Regions from separate parts of the Homo sapiens genome. Here region 1 is linked to region 2. Evidence: fine-mapped QTL for protein levels in blood plasma. A gene starts in region 2. The other region holds a variant in brackets. All regions are shown on one strand. Distances are between the middles of the regions. Region 1 has its middle 23 kb from the start of PRSS50. Region 2 holds the start of PTH1R (parathyroid hormone 1 receptor).

Evidence for each region. PIP is the chance, under the fine-mapping model, that this variant and not a neighbour inherited with it causes the effect. The UK Biobank Pharma Proteomics Project read protein levels with antibody pairs (Olink). The fine-mapping took linkage between variants from a reference panel, not from the people measured, so its PIPs are less certain.
Region 1: its variant is fine-mapped to the plasma level of the PTH1R protein (UK Biobank, PIP above 0.99).

What each region holds. Positions count from the first base shown.
Region 1 is chr3:46,736,390-46,744,719 of GRCh38, reverse strand. It overlaps the pseudogene PRSS46P and the pseudogene PRSS45P. Among named protein-coding and RNA genes, the nearest start is that of PRSS50, 23 kb to the right of the region's middle. The variant G/C (reference allele first, on the strand shown) is at 3,032.
Region 2 is chr3:46,874,230-46,882,559 of GRCh38, reverse strand. PTH1R (parathyroid hormone 1 receptor) reads right to left here and starts at 4,839. Exons shown (of 16, transcript NM_000316.3): 1 at 4,717-4,839; 2 at 1,442-1,498. It also overlaps a transcript of MYL3 not described here.

The sequences.
Region 1 (8,330 bases), 140 kb after region 2:
ATGGAAAATGAGCACGTGTGTGGAGGGGCCCTCATTGACCCCAGCTGGGTGGTGACTGCGGCCCACTGCATCCAAGGGTGAGTATGGCCCATGTGTGCAGGGCTTGGAGACCTCAAGCTACCATGGGCCCAGCCCAGCTTCCTCATTTCCTGAGTGAAACAGTGTGGGAGGGAGGTAGGGAGTGGGAAGGGCATCTGGGATAAGTGAGAATTGTGCTCGGGGTCTCCTGGGGGCCAGGGACTGAGCTAGGGCGGGAGCCCCTAGCAACAAAGACTGCACCCTAAGCTGAGCAACAGGAAAACCCAGAACACGCCCCCTACCCCATCACGCATGAGAGCATATGTGTACACCAACACTTCCACACCTGCACGCACAACACACAGACCAGGCCACCTTGAATCAATTTGAATGATGAATGAGGAGGCAGTCAGCTCTGAGATCTTCAGTGCCCTCAGGCTGGATTAGGCAGATTGGGTGGAGGCAGGACTCTTGCTAAAGGGGTAGGGCCACGGGGAGGTAGGAGTGTGTTCCTGCTTGGGAGTCTGATACCTACCAGGTGGGGCTCTCTGTTTCCCACAGCACCAAAGAGTACTCAGTGGTGCTTGGCACCTCCAAGCTGCAGCCCATGAACTTCAGCAGGGCCCTCTGGGTCCCTGTGAGGGACATCATTATGCACCCCAAGTACTGGGGCCGGGCCTTCATCATGGGTGACGTTGCCCTTGTCCACCTTCAAACACCTGTCACCTTCAGTGAGTACGTGCAGCCCATCTGCCTCCCGGAGCCCAATTTCAACCTGAAGGTTGGGACGCAGTGTTGGGTGACTGGCTGGAGCCAGGTTAAGCAGCGCTTTTCAGATGAGCAGGATGGGATGGGGGGTGGGTGCAGTACCACCGAGAGCACACTCCTTTCCTTCTGGGGCCTTTCCTGCTGGACCTGGTTCTCTGAATGTGTTGACCACTCCTCATGTGGTGACCATTGTCACTGTTTATGTGGACACCTCATTCAGGCCTGGTAGTGCCTGGGCTGGGCATGACCATCTGTGTCTTATAGAAGCTCAGAGCTGGGCATTCACTCATTCCTTCACTTGACACACTTTGAGTGTCGGCACCCAGCCCTTGGGATTAGAAATGCATGCCCTGCCTGGAGGGAAGTCATGATTGGGTGTGGGTGTGGGCACAGGCTGAGGAGAACAAGGCAAAGTTCTTGTCTGGTGGTCTTGAGATCCAGCTGGGAGGGATCTGGAATGAGCTCTGGGCAGAGGGACTGCCTTGAGGCCCTGGAGGAGGAGCGAGTGTTAACGAAGGTGGGGAGAGCGGCCGTGCCAGCAGAGCTGAGAGTCTGCAGGGAAGCAGCGCGGGGCTGGGCCCCAGATTGGAAGCGGCTGCACTGAGACTTGAGTTATGGCTGGTTTGGTTCAGAAGCAGAAGTTTCCCAAGAAGGGGATCTGGACTCAGAGCCTTCGAGGGCGGGGGCTTTTCAGACAAGGCCTGCACTGCAGGGGGAGGGGCCGGTGAAGGAGGGGAGGGCTTGGAGGTATGACAGGCGGTGGCTGGGCTGAGTCTCCAGGGTGAAGGGGACAGGACCCTGGACAGAGGTCAGGGTTGGGTGGAGTGAGAGGTCACTGCTCACCCTGCTAGGCTCCACAGCCAACTCCATGCTGACCCCAGAGCTGCAGGAGGCTGAGGTGTTTATCATGGACAACAAGAGGTGTGACCGGCATTACAAGAAGTCCTTCTTCCCCCCAGTTGTCCCCCTTGTCCTGGGGGACATGATCTGTGCCACCAATTATGGGGAAAACTTGTGCTATGTGAGTTTCTGGGAGGTTCTGGTAGCTCTGCTTCTGCTGGGAACCACTCCTGGGTGGAGGCAGTTCCCTGGGGCGGGGTTGGCCCGGCCTCCCTCCGTTACCATCACCCAGTAGTGCTCTGCTCCTGTCTTCCTTCCCCTGTGATGCTGACTTTTGCCCTGATTCTGGGGTGTGGGTCCCAACTGAGGAGCCAAAAGAGGACCCCAAGTAGTGAGGTCCTGGAGGAGTGAAAACCCTCCCAGCAGAGCTCAGAGGGTGGGCATGGGTCCACAGGGCCCAGCAGGCCCAGCTGGACCCACAGCCTCCATCACTCCTCTCTTTTTGCCTAGGGGGATTCTGGAGGGCCATTGGCTTGTGAAGTTGAGGGCAGATGGATTCTGGCTGGGGTGTTGTCCTGGGAAAAGGCCTGCGTGAAGGCACAGAATCCAGGTGTGTACACCCGCATCACCAAATACACCAAATGGATCAAGAAGCAAATGAGCAATGGAGCCTTCTCAGGTCCCTGTGCCTCTGCCTGCCTCCTGTTCCTGTGCTGGCTGCTGCAGCCCCAGATGGGCTCCTGACCTCCCTACCTTTTCCTCCTCCTGCCTTGCCTCTGCTGAATGGGGCCAGATGGTTTGACCAAGGTCATGTGTCCATCTTCAAAAAGAGTCAGGGTGGGGAAGAGTAACCCCTGGGAGAATGGGTCTGGCTTTGGCATCCCGGTGAGGAGAAGTGTGGTGGATGACTAGGCCTTGGGTGAGCAGGAGAAGGGAAGTGTGGCCTAGAAGGATTCTGGAATCTGGGACCAGGAGAGCAGGGATTAAACATGTGCAAACTTGAGCTGACTCTTTTCTCTTTTCTGGGGTAGTCCTGGGGGTTGGCCGTGGGTGGGATGGCAGAGCTTCCTGGAATTAAGTCTGCCAGGAGGCTGTCTGGAGTGGGGACTGCTGGTTTTTGCTGTATCATTAGTGCTGGGGTTTAAGGAAAAAGTCTGGGCCTGTGACCTCAGTTTCCTTGTCTGTAAAGTGGGCATGCTGTTAAGGGAACAGTTGAAACATGCAGGCTTTTAGGCTGCAGTAGGAGTGACTCACAATAGTACTCCAAAAGCAGCTTTCTTTTTTTTTAAACCAATTATAAAAGTAGTGCATGTTTATTGTAGAAAATTAGAAAACATAGTCGAGCCTAAAGAAAATAGACGTCCCCTGGAGTCCCACCACATGGAGGCATCCGCTTCTCATTTTG[G/C]TATATCTTCTTCTACATTTTTTTCTTAAAAATTATTGCTCATAGGCCAGGCGTGGTGGCTCATGCCTGTAATCCCAGCACTTTGGGAGGCTGAGGCGGGTGGATCACGAGGTCAGGAGATCGAGACCATCCTGGCTAATATGGTGAAACCCCGTCTCTACTAAAAAATACAAAAAATTAGCTGGGCGTGGTGGTGGGCACCTGTAGTCCCAGTTACTCGGGAGGCTGAGGCAGGAGAATGGCTTGAACCTGGGAGGCGGAGCTTGCAGTGAGCCGAGATTGCGCCACTGCATTCCAGCCTGGGTGACAGAGTGAGACTCTGTCTCAAAAAAAAAAAAAAATCTATATATATCTCTAGAGCTATACAGATATATATCTATATATATCTCTAGAGATATATATCTACATATATCTATATATATCTCTAGAGAGATATATATCTACATATATCTCTAGAGAGATATATATCTACATATATCTCTCGAGAGATATATATCTACATATATCTCTAGAGAGATATATATCTACATATATCTCTAGAGAGATATATATCTACATATATCTCTAGAGAGATATATATCTACATATATCTCTAGAGAGATATATATCTACATATATCTCTAGAGAGATATATATCTACATATATGTCTATATATCTGTATATATAGATACATATATCTAGATATATATAGTGGGTTACACCCTATCAATATAAAACATGCCTTTTGTCCTATGTAACATTACTTGTTTTTTCAAAGATCCAGATCAGAGTTCATTCTTAATTTTGGCAGTTCTTCTAATTGATTAAGGTACAATTTTATATTTTGTACTTTTTTTCCTTCAGATTTTCCTCTGGTTTATTTTCTACTCTTTATAGTTTTTAGATTTGAGTATTTAGGTCATTTATTTTCATTCTCTGTTATTCAATAATAAATATCTTTAAGGTTATGAATTTGCCTTCAAATATATATATATATTTCAAAGATATATATATCTAGATATATATATATATCTCATAATCTTCTTTTTTAAGAAAAAAATGTAGAAGAAAATATACCAAAATGAGAAGTGGATGCCTCCATGTGATTATTTTATTGCTCTTTTTGTAACCTCTTGAGTAGTGGGCTTAGTTCATTATTTTAGAGTTCTTTGTGTTCTAGTATTTTCAGTTAATTCCATAAATTTTCCTCTGAGTCCCACTTTAGCCATATTTCACAGGATTTGATACGTACTGGCCTCATTGTCATTCATTTCTGTATTGTTTATAATTTCACAGTATATTTCTTATTTAGTCCAAGAGTTATATAGAAGGGTGTTATTTAATTTCCTGATGGGTAGTTCTTGGGAGGAATGAGGGCTTCTTTTTCTCTATATCACTACAGTCATATGCCACATAATGACATTTCAGTCGATTACAGACCACATATACAAGAGTGGTCCCATAAGATTATAATGGAGCATATATAGAAACCTGATATATGGTAGTTGATAGTGGCATTGCAGACAAGTAAGGGAATGACTGACATTCACTAATGGTGCTGGGACATTTGGTTTTCCTGATGAAAAAATACATATACATAAAAATATATATGTACCATCTAGGCGTGTGTAAGCACAGTCTTATGTTTGCATGGTGATGAAATTGCCTAACAATGCATTTCTCATACTGTATCCCTGTCATTAAGTGATGCACGACTGTGTATGAATTTAATTATTTCTGCATTTTTGAATTTTTTGAGGTTTTATTTGTGGCTTAGTATTTGGTTAGTCTTAGTGAGTGTTGTGCGTCTGAAATGAAAGTGTGTGTTTTCACAAGTGTTCATTGCAGCACTATTCACAATAGCCAAGACATGGAATCAACCTAAAGGCCTATCAATGACACTGGATAAAGAAAATGTGTTACACAAACACCATGGAATACTATGCAGCCATAAAAAAGAAAGAGATACGTCTTTTGCGGGAAAATGGTTGGAGCTGGAGGCCATTATCCTTAGCAAACTAATGCAGGAACAGAAAACCAGATACCACATGTTCTCACTTCTAAGTGGGAGCTAAATGATGAGAACACATGGACACATAGAGGGGAACAACAGCAGCATTGTTCCTGGAGCCTCCTTGGTTTTAGTGATGCAAAGGAGGAGGGAGAGGAGCAGAAAAAATAATTGTTGGATACAAGGCATAGTATCTGGGTGATGAAATAATCTGTACAACAAACCCCTGTGACACAAGTTTACCTAAGTAACAAACCTGCACATGTACTCCTGAACCTAAAATAGTTAAAAGTGTGTGTTTTAGAACGAAGTTTGAGCCATAACTGATTGGATCAGGCTTGTTGATTGTGTTATTCAAATTATCTCAACACCTGACATATTTTACGGCTGCATAATTTGTTGATTTCTAAGAAGTTTACTGCAAAACTTAAGAATTTGCCTATTTCTTCTTGCACAATTCTTGCTTTCTATGTTTCAAAGCTGTGTTGTTAGGAATACAGGGTTCATGCCTGCTGTATTATCTTAGTGGGTTACACCCTATCAATATAAAACATGCCTTTTGTCCTATGTAACATTACTTGTTTTTTCAAAGATCCAGATCAGAGTTCATTCTTAATTTTGGCAGTTCTTCTAATTGATTGAGGTACAATTTTATATTTTGTACTTTTTTTCCTTCAGATTTTCCTCTGGTTTATTTTCCACTTTTTATAGTTTTTAGATTTGAGTATTTAGGTCATTTATTTTCATTCTCTGTTATTCAATACTAAATATCTTTAAGGTTATGAATTTGCCTTGGGCACACCCAGTAAGGTTTTTAAATAACGTATTGCTCTAATTATTAGTATTATTTTATTAGTAGTTTATAGCTATTCCGTCTCTCAAGGACAGAGTGAGTTGGAGAAGACTCTCCCACTGCAAGAGAGATTTTCCAGCTTCTCATGTGTTGCTGATTGATTTTGTTTCATATGTTTGATGTTATTTTATTGATGGACAGAACTTTATGATGTTACATATTGCAATTTGTGCCTTTTTCAACACAAAATAGCTTTCTTTTTCTGTTTAAATAATTTGTCTTGAATCATTTTTAGAGATTCACATTGCCATTGCCACTTTTGCTTGCATATAAATATATTTTTGCCTATCTTTTAAAAATTTAATTAATTTCTAATTTTTAAAATTAATATTTTTTGAGACAGGGTCTCATTCTGTTGCCCAGTCTGGAGTGCAGTGGCGTGATCTCAGCTCACCACAATCTCAGCCTCCCGGGTAGCTGGGACCACAGGTGCATGCCACCACACCTGGCTAATTTTTTAAATTTTTTCTAAAGACGAGGTCTCACTATGTTGGCTAGGCTGGTGTCGAACTCCTGGGCTCAAGCCATCCACCCACCCCAGCCTCCCAAAGTTCTGGGATTGCAGGTGTGAGCCACCAAGCCCAGCCACATCTTTTTACTTTCACCTTATTTATGCCACTTTGTTTTTGGTGTGTCTTTAATAAGTAGTATGTGGATGGGTTTTTTTCTACCCAACATGAAGATCTTTTTATTTTAAAAGTAGAATTCTATGCATTCACATTGGTTGTGATAACAGATATGCCTGATCTTTATTCAGTTATCCTGTTTTGTTTTATTGATTGGTTGTTTCCCCCAAAGAATTATTTTCTGCAAAGGCAGAAGAGTGATAGCGTTTCTCTTCTCTGAAGTTTCTCTTTTCTTTCTCCCTCTTTCCCTTTCTATGTCTTTCCCCCTGGAGGGAATTTGATTGTACAGATAATAATTTCCTTGATTTTCTACCATATAGCTCTAAAATTAGTTTGTTTTGCCTGTTTTTTAATTTCATACAGTACACAGACTGTATCTGACTTTTGTATCTGAATTGTCTCACTCAGAATAGGGTTATGAGCGTCACCTTCCAGCTAGGTGTAGCAGCAGCTCATCCATTCTCACTGCCGCTGAAGATTCCGCGTAGCTGTTGCACCTTGGATGGCAGTTGGGTAGTTTCCAGCTGGGACCCTTCCCAGCAGCACTGCTAGTGAACAGTCTCTTGCACCTGTCCTGCTGCATCTGTGCAGTTTCTAGGGCATGAAGCCAGGAGTAGAACTGTGGGTTGTGGGGTAGGCACACTTTCTGCTCTGCTAAATGATTCCAAACAGTCATTTATAGTGGTCATGTCAGTTTATCTCCCCAGCAGTGTGTGAACAACCTCGTCACTCCGTGTCCTTGGCAGCACTGGCTGCAGGGTGGAGCAGGAGCTTCCTGCATGGACAGTGTGAGGAGCCTGGGATCCTTGGGAAGGGAGACCTCGGGGGAGTGGTGACGAGGTGTCCCCAGATGTCATTCATTCTGCTGATTTGTGAAGACCCAAGTCTGCAAGTGGCTTCCTCTTAGGAAGCCACCCTGCCAGGTTAAACATACCTAGATTTCCTCAACCCAGGAGCTCTTTCCTTTGAAAATACAGACCTTGGGCTGGGCATAGTGGCTCATGCCTGTAATCCCTGGAGCTTGAGACCAGGGCAGCACAGTGAGACCTTGTCTCTCAAAAAATTAAAAAAAATTAGCCAGGCATGATGGTGCACACCTGTGGTCCTAGCTACTCGGGAGGCTAAGGTAGGAGGATTGCTTGAGCCTGGGAGGTGGAGGCTGCAGTGAGCTATGATCTCACCACCATCACACTCCAGCGTGGTGACAGAATGAGACCCTGTCTGGAAAAAAAAAAAAAAAGAAAAGTAAAGAAAATACAGACCCTGAGGGAAAAAAGAAACCTCCAGTTCCACCTCAATCACATCACATACTACAAGAACTAGTTATCTCCCTCTCAGTGCCTCAGTTTCCACACCTCCAGGGAGGCGTGAGAGGGGGTTCACAAAGGAGCCTGGGCTGGGCACTAGGGTGCTTCATGGGCCAGGTACCAGGCACTGTCACGAGCCAGGCACATCGTACTGTCACAGGCTCAGAACTACACACTGGGGGCACCATCAAGGCCAAGGCTGGACATAGGGTACACTGCAGAGAGCTGGGCCTAGGAGGCACTGTCACGGGCCGAGCACCGGGAGTACCACTCCAGGGAGGTTCCTGACAGCAGCATCACCTTGTGGCCCTGGCAGGGCCTTGCCATGACCACACTGCCTCCTTCTCAGAGTCCTGTGACTGCCACAGCCAGGTAGGCCTCCAACCTTGGGGCGGATGCCTACTCCCCACAGTCATGAACACACAAAGCATGAGTTCTAGAATCTTGGCATAGTAGAGGTGCCCCATCCCCTCTGCCTCCACATCCGTTAGAAGGAGCATTGAGGAGTAGATACCCACTTGC
Region 2 (8,330 bases):
AGACAGAGCAGCCTGGCTGCTCCGGCCAGGCCCGGAGTCGCTCCTCCCCGACTCCGGCCACTTCCCCTCGGCGCGGGTCCCCAGCCCCGACTTACTCCGAGCGCGCCGCCGCGGCCCCCGCCTTGCCATGGATGTCGGGGCCCCCCCGACAGCCTCCCCAAGCCAGCGCCCCGTCCGCGGCCCCGGGGGGACTTCATGGAGCTCTCGGGATACCCCCCGCTGGCCGGCCTGGCCTCCAGCGCCCCCCGCCCGGCCGCCGCTCGGAGCCACCGCCCGCCGCGCGCATCCCTCGCCTCGGCGTCTGCCGCTCCCCTTCTCCCCGGCCGGGCGCCTCTTCCCTCCCCCGCGCCCTCCCGGGCCTCTCCCGCCCCCACCCCCTCCGCAGCCGCCGACGCGGGAGTGTGGAGAGGCCGAGAGGAGCCTTCCGCCCCCCGCCCCGGGACATTGCGCTAGAGGCCGAGGCCCGGAGTCTTACGGCGGCGGGATGTGAGTGCTGGGGAGACGGGGCGGGGGCAGCTGTAACATCGAGACCCGAGCAGGGAACCCGGGACGCCGCCGCCGCTTCATTCTCTTCTGGAAAGCACGGGCTTTTAAATTTTTTTTCCCTTGATCATCCGGCCCCCGCTGGCGAATAGAGACCCTGAGCCGAGAAGCGAGCCCTCTTTCATCATGGGCGAATCCCCTGAGGAGGCTGCCCGGTACCCCCGCGCGCCCCCGGCCGCGACGCTGTCAGTCCACTGGGCTCCCGTTCGGGCCGGGTCGGGGTCCCTGGGGAGGCCGCTCGGCTGCCAGCCCCGAGCCCGGCTTGGCTGCTGCCGCCCTCCCCCACGTCCAGCCCCACCCTCGCCTCGTCCCCTGCCCTCAGTCCCATCCCAGGCCTGTCGTTCCTCTCGGCCCTAGGCCAGCCCCGACCCCCGCCCAGGTCTGCAGCCACACATCCCGCTCCCTCCCTGCCCAGCGTCTCTTCGGGTCCGGGTCTCCGAGTCTCGACCCATTCAGCTGCTGGCCGGGCCTCTCCAGCTTGCCCAGCCCCAACCCCGGAGGCTCGAGGCTGCCAGACCTGGGGCTCAATCCAGACACCCACTCTCAGGCTTCACCTCCCTCCCCCGTTCCCACCCCCACTCCCAAAAGCTATCGGCCGGCTCGGACCGGGCCGCCTGGGACCCTCGACTTAGGGGAAGGCAAGGAGGAGTCCGCGGGGGTTGGGGCTGAACGGGGCGGGATTTCTGTGTTTGGCTGGGGAGGGCACGCTGGAGCTCTAAGAGGAGGGGCCCTTCGACCCCAAACCTACCACCTCCCGGTACCAAGTGGGGAAACTGAGGCAGAGGGAGGGGCTGGGGATGCCTGGAGCGCAGGGCTTTAAGGATCGCGGAGGAAGCGAATGCATGAGGCCCTGGGAAATGAGTCTGGGCTAAGCAACAGCCTGTGCTTGCCCGCTTACCAGTTGTGTGTCCTGGACACTACCACTCTTCGGCTGTCTGGACCTCAGTTTCCTCATCTGCAAAATGGAGAGGTTGGCCAGCTGATTCAAGGGCAATGTTAACTTTACTGTTTAGTTTCCACGAGGGTGGGCATCCTGGCCCATGGGCTCCAGGGGCTCTCAAGACTCAGCCTGTGGATATTGAGCTCCTCGGAGCCTGCAAACCTGCCCTCCAACCCTCAGTGCAAATCTGTCAAGCCCAAGTCCTAAGGCCTAGGATCCAGCTGCAGCCACCCTTCTGCTGGCTCAAGCCCATCCAGCTTCCAGACTGCACTCCCAGGTGCATTCCCCATGTATTTCTTCTGCTGCTACTTTCTTCTTCTTTCTTCTCCTTCTCCTTCTTCTTCTTCTTCAAGACAAAGTCTCACTTTGTCACCCAGGCTGGAGTCCAGTGGCATGATCTCTGCTCACTGCAACCTCCGCTTCCCAGGCTCAAGTGATTCTCCCAAGTAGCTGGGACTACAGGTGTGTACCACCAACCTGGCTAATTTTTGCATTTCTTGGTAGAGACGGGGTTTCACCATGTTGACCAGGCTGGTCACGAACCCCTGACCTCAAGTGATCCACCTGCCTCAGCCTCCCAAAGTGCTGGGATTACAGGTATGAACCACCAGCCTTGGCCCTCCCCATGCATTTCTATGGCTGCCTCCCTTCTCTGTGCCCACTGCCCTCATTTCTTTTTCTGGTGTTCAAGGGCTGTGCTATTTGAGACAGTTTCCTCCAAAAATGACTCTCCCTAACAGGAACTGTCTGCTAGACTCCTGGTCTTCTTCACACATCCACTCTCCTGCCTTTGTCCTTGCTGCTTCCTCTGCCAGGATCATACTCTTCTGCCTGGTGTAAAGGACACTCCCCTCCCTCCTTGTGTGCCCACATCCTCCGTTACTGGGGAGGGAGGTTGTGATTTCAGGGCTGCCTCCTATGGTATGTAGCCTCCTTGGGACGGAGGCCCAGGTGCCAGAATGGGCACCTAAAGAACACTTGTGGTTCTTCAGTGTTATATTTTAATGGTCTCAGCTTTATTATGCCTCTGTTTCTTTTCTTTTTTGAGACAGGGCTGTTGGCCAGGCTGGAGTGCAGTGGTGCGATCTCGGCTGACTGCAACCTCCACCTCCCGGGTTCAAGCAATTCTCTGGCCTCAGCCTCCTGAGTAGCTGGCATTATAGTTGTGCACCACCACGCCTGGCTAATTTTTGCATTTGTAGTGGAGATGGGGTTTCTCCATGTTGGCCAGGCTGGTTTCAAACTCCTGGCCTCAAGTGATCCTGTCTCGGCCTCCCAAAGTGTTGAGATTACAAGCGTGAGCCACCACACGCAGCATTTTTTTTTTCCCCAGACAGGGTCTTGCTGTGTCACCCAGGCTGGAGTGCAGTGGCACGGTCATGGCTCACAGCAGCCTTGACCTCCTGGGCTCAAGCAATCCTCTCACCTCAGCCTCTCATGTAGCTGGCACCACAGGCATGAGCTACCACACCTGGGTAATTAAAAAATTTTTTTTTTGTAGAGACGAGGTCTCACTTTGTTGCCTAGACTGGTCTCCAACTCTTGGGCTCAAGCAGTCCTCCTGCCTCGGCCTCCCAAAGTGCTGGGATTACAGGCATGAACCACCGCACCTGGCCTATGCCTCTGTTTCTAAGTGTCTCTAAGTTTTATGGTTCTGTGACCACTGATCTTCCACCCTGCTTTCCCCCTTGGTGATGAGAAAAGAACATTAATGGAGGGATTGGAAGGACTGAGAGATAAAACTAGAGGCTGAGGGGAGGAGTTCTTTTCAGATCTGACACCAGGGAAAACTTGAGATTTGGAAACATACTACTTGTACTTGGGAGGATGAGGGTGGGCTGTGGAGAGGGCTGCAGAGAGGAATCTGATGGGTGCTGGGTCCCTTAAGGGCATTCCTCCTGCCATAACTCATGTGCCTCACCCCAGAGTCCCCTGCTGGACATTCCACAGCTGTGGGTGGGGCCACAGATCATCTCTCTCACCCTCGGGCCTCTGGTTAAAGTGCTACCATGAGGGTGGGGGTGTCACACATTAACTGGTAGCACCCAAGCACCTGGCAGAGTCAGCTTGCCCTTTTTGACAAGCACGCCCCAGGGGCTCAGAGTCAGTTTCTGGTTAGTGTCAGGTCAGTGTTAGTTTCAATGGGGTTTGAAAAGGCCTGGCTGGGGGTGGGGAGTAGGAGTGAGTCCCTGTCTCTAATCCCCAGGCTGGGGCCTAGGAGGAGGAGCCAGGGTGGTCACTGGATCTCAGAACTGCAGTAGGGGCCAGACTCTGGCCCCACCCCTGCTGGTGTGGCAGCCCCAGGCTGACAGGCCTCTGCTGCAGCCATCCCACCGTGAGTAGGGCTCTGGCCAAGGTACACAGACCCTGGGGCCAGGGTGGGCATCAGACACCAACAAGCAAGGCAAGAGGCTCAGCTGTCTGAGCAATGCAGCCTGGCCTTCCTCCCTCAGAAAACCCCTTGGCCAGACCAGGGGTTCTCTGGGACTAATGGCTCACATCTATTTCTGAGTCCTTATATTTCCCCAGTGCTTCATCCCAACACTAGCCCCAAAGTCAGGCTGCATCCAAGCTTAGCCCTGATCCCAGACTGAGCTCTATCTCCATCATGAGCCCCAGCCTCAGGCTGAGTTCTTATCCCAGTCTGATTTCTAGCCCCTGGCTGAACTCTGACCCCAGGTTGTGCCTCCACCCAGCCCTCAACCCCAGACCTCTCTCGGCTTCTAGGCCCCTCTGGAAACTTTTTGAGGCAAGAGCCCAGTAGGGGAGGGGATGGCTAGGCCATAAGTGAAGCGAGGTGCCACTTTTACAGCCATTTCGGCTGCTCATAAACACCCCCTGACACCCAGCTGAGTCGCTGGAGGCTCCCATGGCAGCTGGCTGGGTAGCCCCCTTCCCTTGCAGCAGAAGCATGGCTGCCTGGCTTTCTTGCCTCTCAGGAAGGTGAAGGGAGGGGCGATGGGGGCACCTGGGGCCAGCAGGCTCTGTCCCAACCAGGGAGCACTCCTAAGGCTCCCAAGGAGCTAGAGGTATGGGCTTTCTGTCCCTGCTGGCCTCATGGTTACAAGCCCCCTGCTGTCATAACACCAGGTCCACAGATGTGTCTCCATGCGGGCATGTCTTGTCTGCCCCATAGCACGGCCCAGGTATTTAGACACTCACCCCCAGGGAAACCACAGACTTGGGCTTCCCAGCTGTGCTCAGGCCCCTAGGCTCCCCTGGCCCCCACTCACCTGCAGCCCATGGGCCTTCCAAGTCGGGCCTAAAGCTGCAGAGCAGACTCAAGTTGGCCACGGGGAGGCCATGGATAGTCCCTGAGCAGCTTCTGTGGCTCAGGCCTAAGCAAGGATAGTGCTGCTGGGGACAAGAAAAGACCTGAGTCAGAGCTTCCACTTGAAAAGAAAATTAATTATTTTTTACCAAGCCCTACACTGGCCCAGGACTTTGTCCCAGGCTCCTAGTCAGGAGTAGGAGGCAACAGAGGCAGATCCAAGTGTGCCGGTGTTCAGATGCCCAGGGCTGGGCCCTCCCCTCAGCACCCATGGGTCTGCCTGCCAGGTAACTGGGCCCACTCAGGCTGCCAGACACGTGTGTGTGCCTCAATAGTCCTCTCCTTGCCCTGCCATGCCTCTCTCTTAGTCTCTGTGTCCCTGTCTAACCCTCTGGTCCTTTCCACATCTCAGGAATATCAGGCTGCCACGAGGTATGAACACAGCCCCTACTAGTGACTTCACTCAAGTTTAAGGCACCCAGAGAAATCAGAGGGGGGCTGGAGGTGGTTCTTGCCTGTGTCACAGGCAGGAAAACTGAGGCCCAAGAAAGCCTGATCTGCCAGCACTGGGTACCCAGTGGCTCCTAGACGGAAGAGATGGAGGGGGCCGTCATTCCACTCCAGCCCGTGTCCTGACCCCTACAGCCCCACAGCCACCTCATATCTGACTCCTTGCCCACTGGAATGTGGGCTCCTGGTGAGGAGTCAGCCAGGAAGCCCTCCCTATCTGCCTCCCAGGCCCTTCCAGGCCCAGGGTCTGCTTAAGCTGTCACAGGTCTCAAAGGCAGGGGGCTGTGGACAGGATGACTTCTCTCTGTGGGTCTGTAGAACGAGCTGTGTTCAGAACCAGGGCTGGTTGCTCAGGATGAAGATGTGGGCAGACAGGGAGGCAGAGACCCTGCAAGATCCCAGAAACCTCACCCCCAGGCCCTGTGACCCGGCTGGAGGCTGCCCTTCTGCCTGAGCCCAGTCTGAGCTGGTTTGTGTCTGGAAGTCCTAGGCTCAGCCTGATGAGGTATAATGATTCACGTGGCAGCTGCCACTCAGCACATTCCAGCTGTAGCCCCCAGTGCCCTGCATGTGAGGCAGCTGGCCCCAACCACCCCCAGCCATTGGGCACATTCCTAGGGCCCCCCTCCCTGGGTCTTCCAGGCTCCTGGGGAGGGTACCACTCATTAGAGTTTCCAAAGTACTTTTTGTTTCACAAGTTAGTCAGGGAGGCAGGCTCGGTGATACCTGGCCTCCAGGTGGAGGAAACGGGACCAAAGAGCAGAATGGACTGGCCAGGGGACATAGTGAAACTATGACAAACAGCACTTATGGGACTCCTGCCCCAGCTACTCTGAAGTGCACTGCTCCAAGGGGTATCCTGGGACACGTAGGCTATTCTGTGACCAGGCCAGCGGAGGTCAGTGGGCAGTTGTGCCCAAAGGAGGGAGAGTTCCCCTGTGCTCTGTCAAGCCTCCCTGTTGCCCTGGCTCTTGACTGCCAGAGCCTCTACCTCCCCTGAGTCCACATGCACTGCCCTACCCTGCCCACAGGCCCCATCCTCACTGGCCAGGGAAGCAGGAGGCTGGGGCCTTTTCTGCTTTGACCTGTGGATCCCTGAGCCAGACGCCTTCCTGCTCATGGCCTCAGTTTCCTGATCTGTTGTTAACAGTTGGGCAGTTTCAGGCTCAAAGGGGATCTGTAAAGTGCCCAGGCACTTGGGTCTTGGATGCAAGCAGACCTGGGAGTCTGAAAACCTGAAGGCCTTTCTCTCCTCGAGCCTTGGGCCTGCCAGTTTGCGTTCCTCCTGTGGGCCCCAGCCCAGGGCTCTGGGGGGCAAGTCTGGCCCTCAGCTCCGGGGACAGGAAGTTGTATTTTGGTCCTGGGTTCTGGGGAAGAGGTAGGGGGAGAATGGCAGCTCAGACCCAGCCATGTTTACTCGGGCCCGGCCCCCTCCGAGCTCAACAGGCTCCCATTCATTGGGAGACCCATAAACCCTTTGGGGCTCCCTGAGGTTCAGAACGCCTGGATGCCAAGGCTGGATGCCGCCCCCAGACCTGCTGGGAGCTGTGGGCAGCAGGTGGGGCATGAGTGAGGCATAAGTGGGATGGTGGGTGGGAGCCTGAGACTCGCCTGAGTTTCCAGGTATTTGCAGCGTCGTAACAGTTCTTGCCCCATGCACATTGTGGAGCAGTTGGGAAATCCAGGGAGGTGGTGGAGGTTGAAGGGTTCCTTCCATGGCCACGAGGCCATCAAAACTGATTTCTCTTAGATCAGGCCCCAGAAGGGTGTCTCCTCAGACTAGGCTCCTGAGGGCATGTCCTCAAATTGCATGACCCTCAAGGCAAGGCTGAGACTGCTGTGTCCAAAGCGGAGCTGATGTCCTTGCTGAGGCTGCATACCTGGCCTTGGGTTGTTGACAGTCCACTCCCTGGCAGTGTGGGCATGGGCTTGCATCCCACTGGAGTAGGGCAAGTCTCTGGTCTGTTCCTCATCTGTTCAGCAGGAGGTCTTCACCGGAAGGGGAAGCACTGGGATTGGATGCTGAGGGATGGGGCCCTCAGGTCTGCATCCCTCAGTGTTGCGTGTTGTTACCTTTGTGCCCATCTCTGTGCTTTCTTTGGGTGAGTTAGAGCACCGTCCCGTGGTCCCTGGAAATGGAAGGGAGGCAGCAACAGTGTTCAATGGGAAGAACTGTGGCTTGGGGGTCCAAATCTTGTCCAGCTTTCCCATGACCTGGTAACAATTCTGTCCCCACTCAGGTCTTCAGTTCTCCCTGCCACAGACGGGTTAGAGTGGACTCTCTCCAAACCCACCCCCAGCCCTGCTGTTCCCAAGGGCAGCTCTGAGGGAGATCCCTGGTGGCATGGTGGCGGGGAGTGGGGTAGGAGAAAGGCCTCCCCACCAGATCCCCTTTCATCAGTGCCCCCACATGCCCGGGCAACCTGGCCAGCCACTGGGGACACTGGTTGGGGGTCCAAAGCGGGTCCTGTTTCCCAGACGCCTTCTGGGTAGAGTGTGATTTCCCGCTCCAGTGGTTGTAAAATCCCCAGAAGCCTAGTGCGTCCCTATTGTGTGTGTGGGGGGGGGTCTGTGCCTCGGAATACCCCCTCCCAGGCGTGTTTGACACGTGTTTCCGCCTCTCCCTGCATGGGCTCCCGCTGCTGCTATTTATAACCTTTAAGAGCTCCTGCCGACTGCAAAGTTTTCTTAAACTCAAAATATCACCGAGGTCCCGGGCACGCGTTCCAGAGGCCGGCTGGGCCCTGCGGTTTGAAGGGAGGAGGGGGCCAGGAAGGAGGAGGTGGTGGGGAGGGGGTTAGCTCAGACACTGGGTCCTTGCCGGGGGCTGTGGCCGGGAGCCCTCGAGTGGAGAACCCCTAGTCCTGACACTCCTGCCCTGTTAGGCCTGGAGGAACCCTCTATGTGGGTGGTCCTTTGTCGTGCCTTGCCAAATCTCTGGGCCTCAGTTTCCTCTCACTCTAAATGCCTCAGGGGACACTGGCTGGGGCAAGGCAATGAGCTGGCGGACACTGGGAATGTCTCTAGGGCTGGAATCAGGGTTGTGTCTGCCTGGCCATCCTGCAG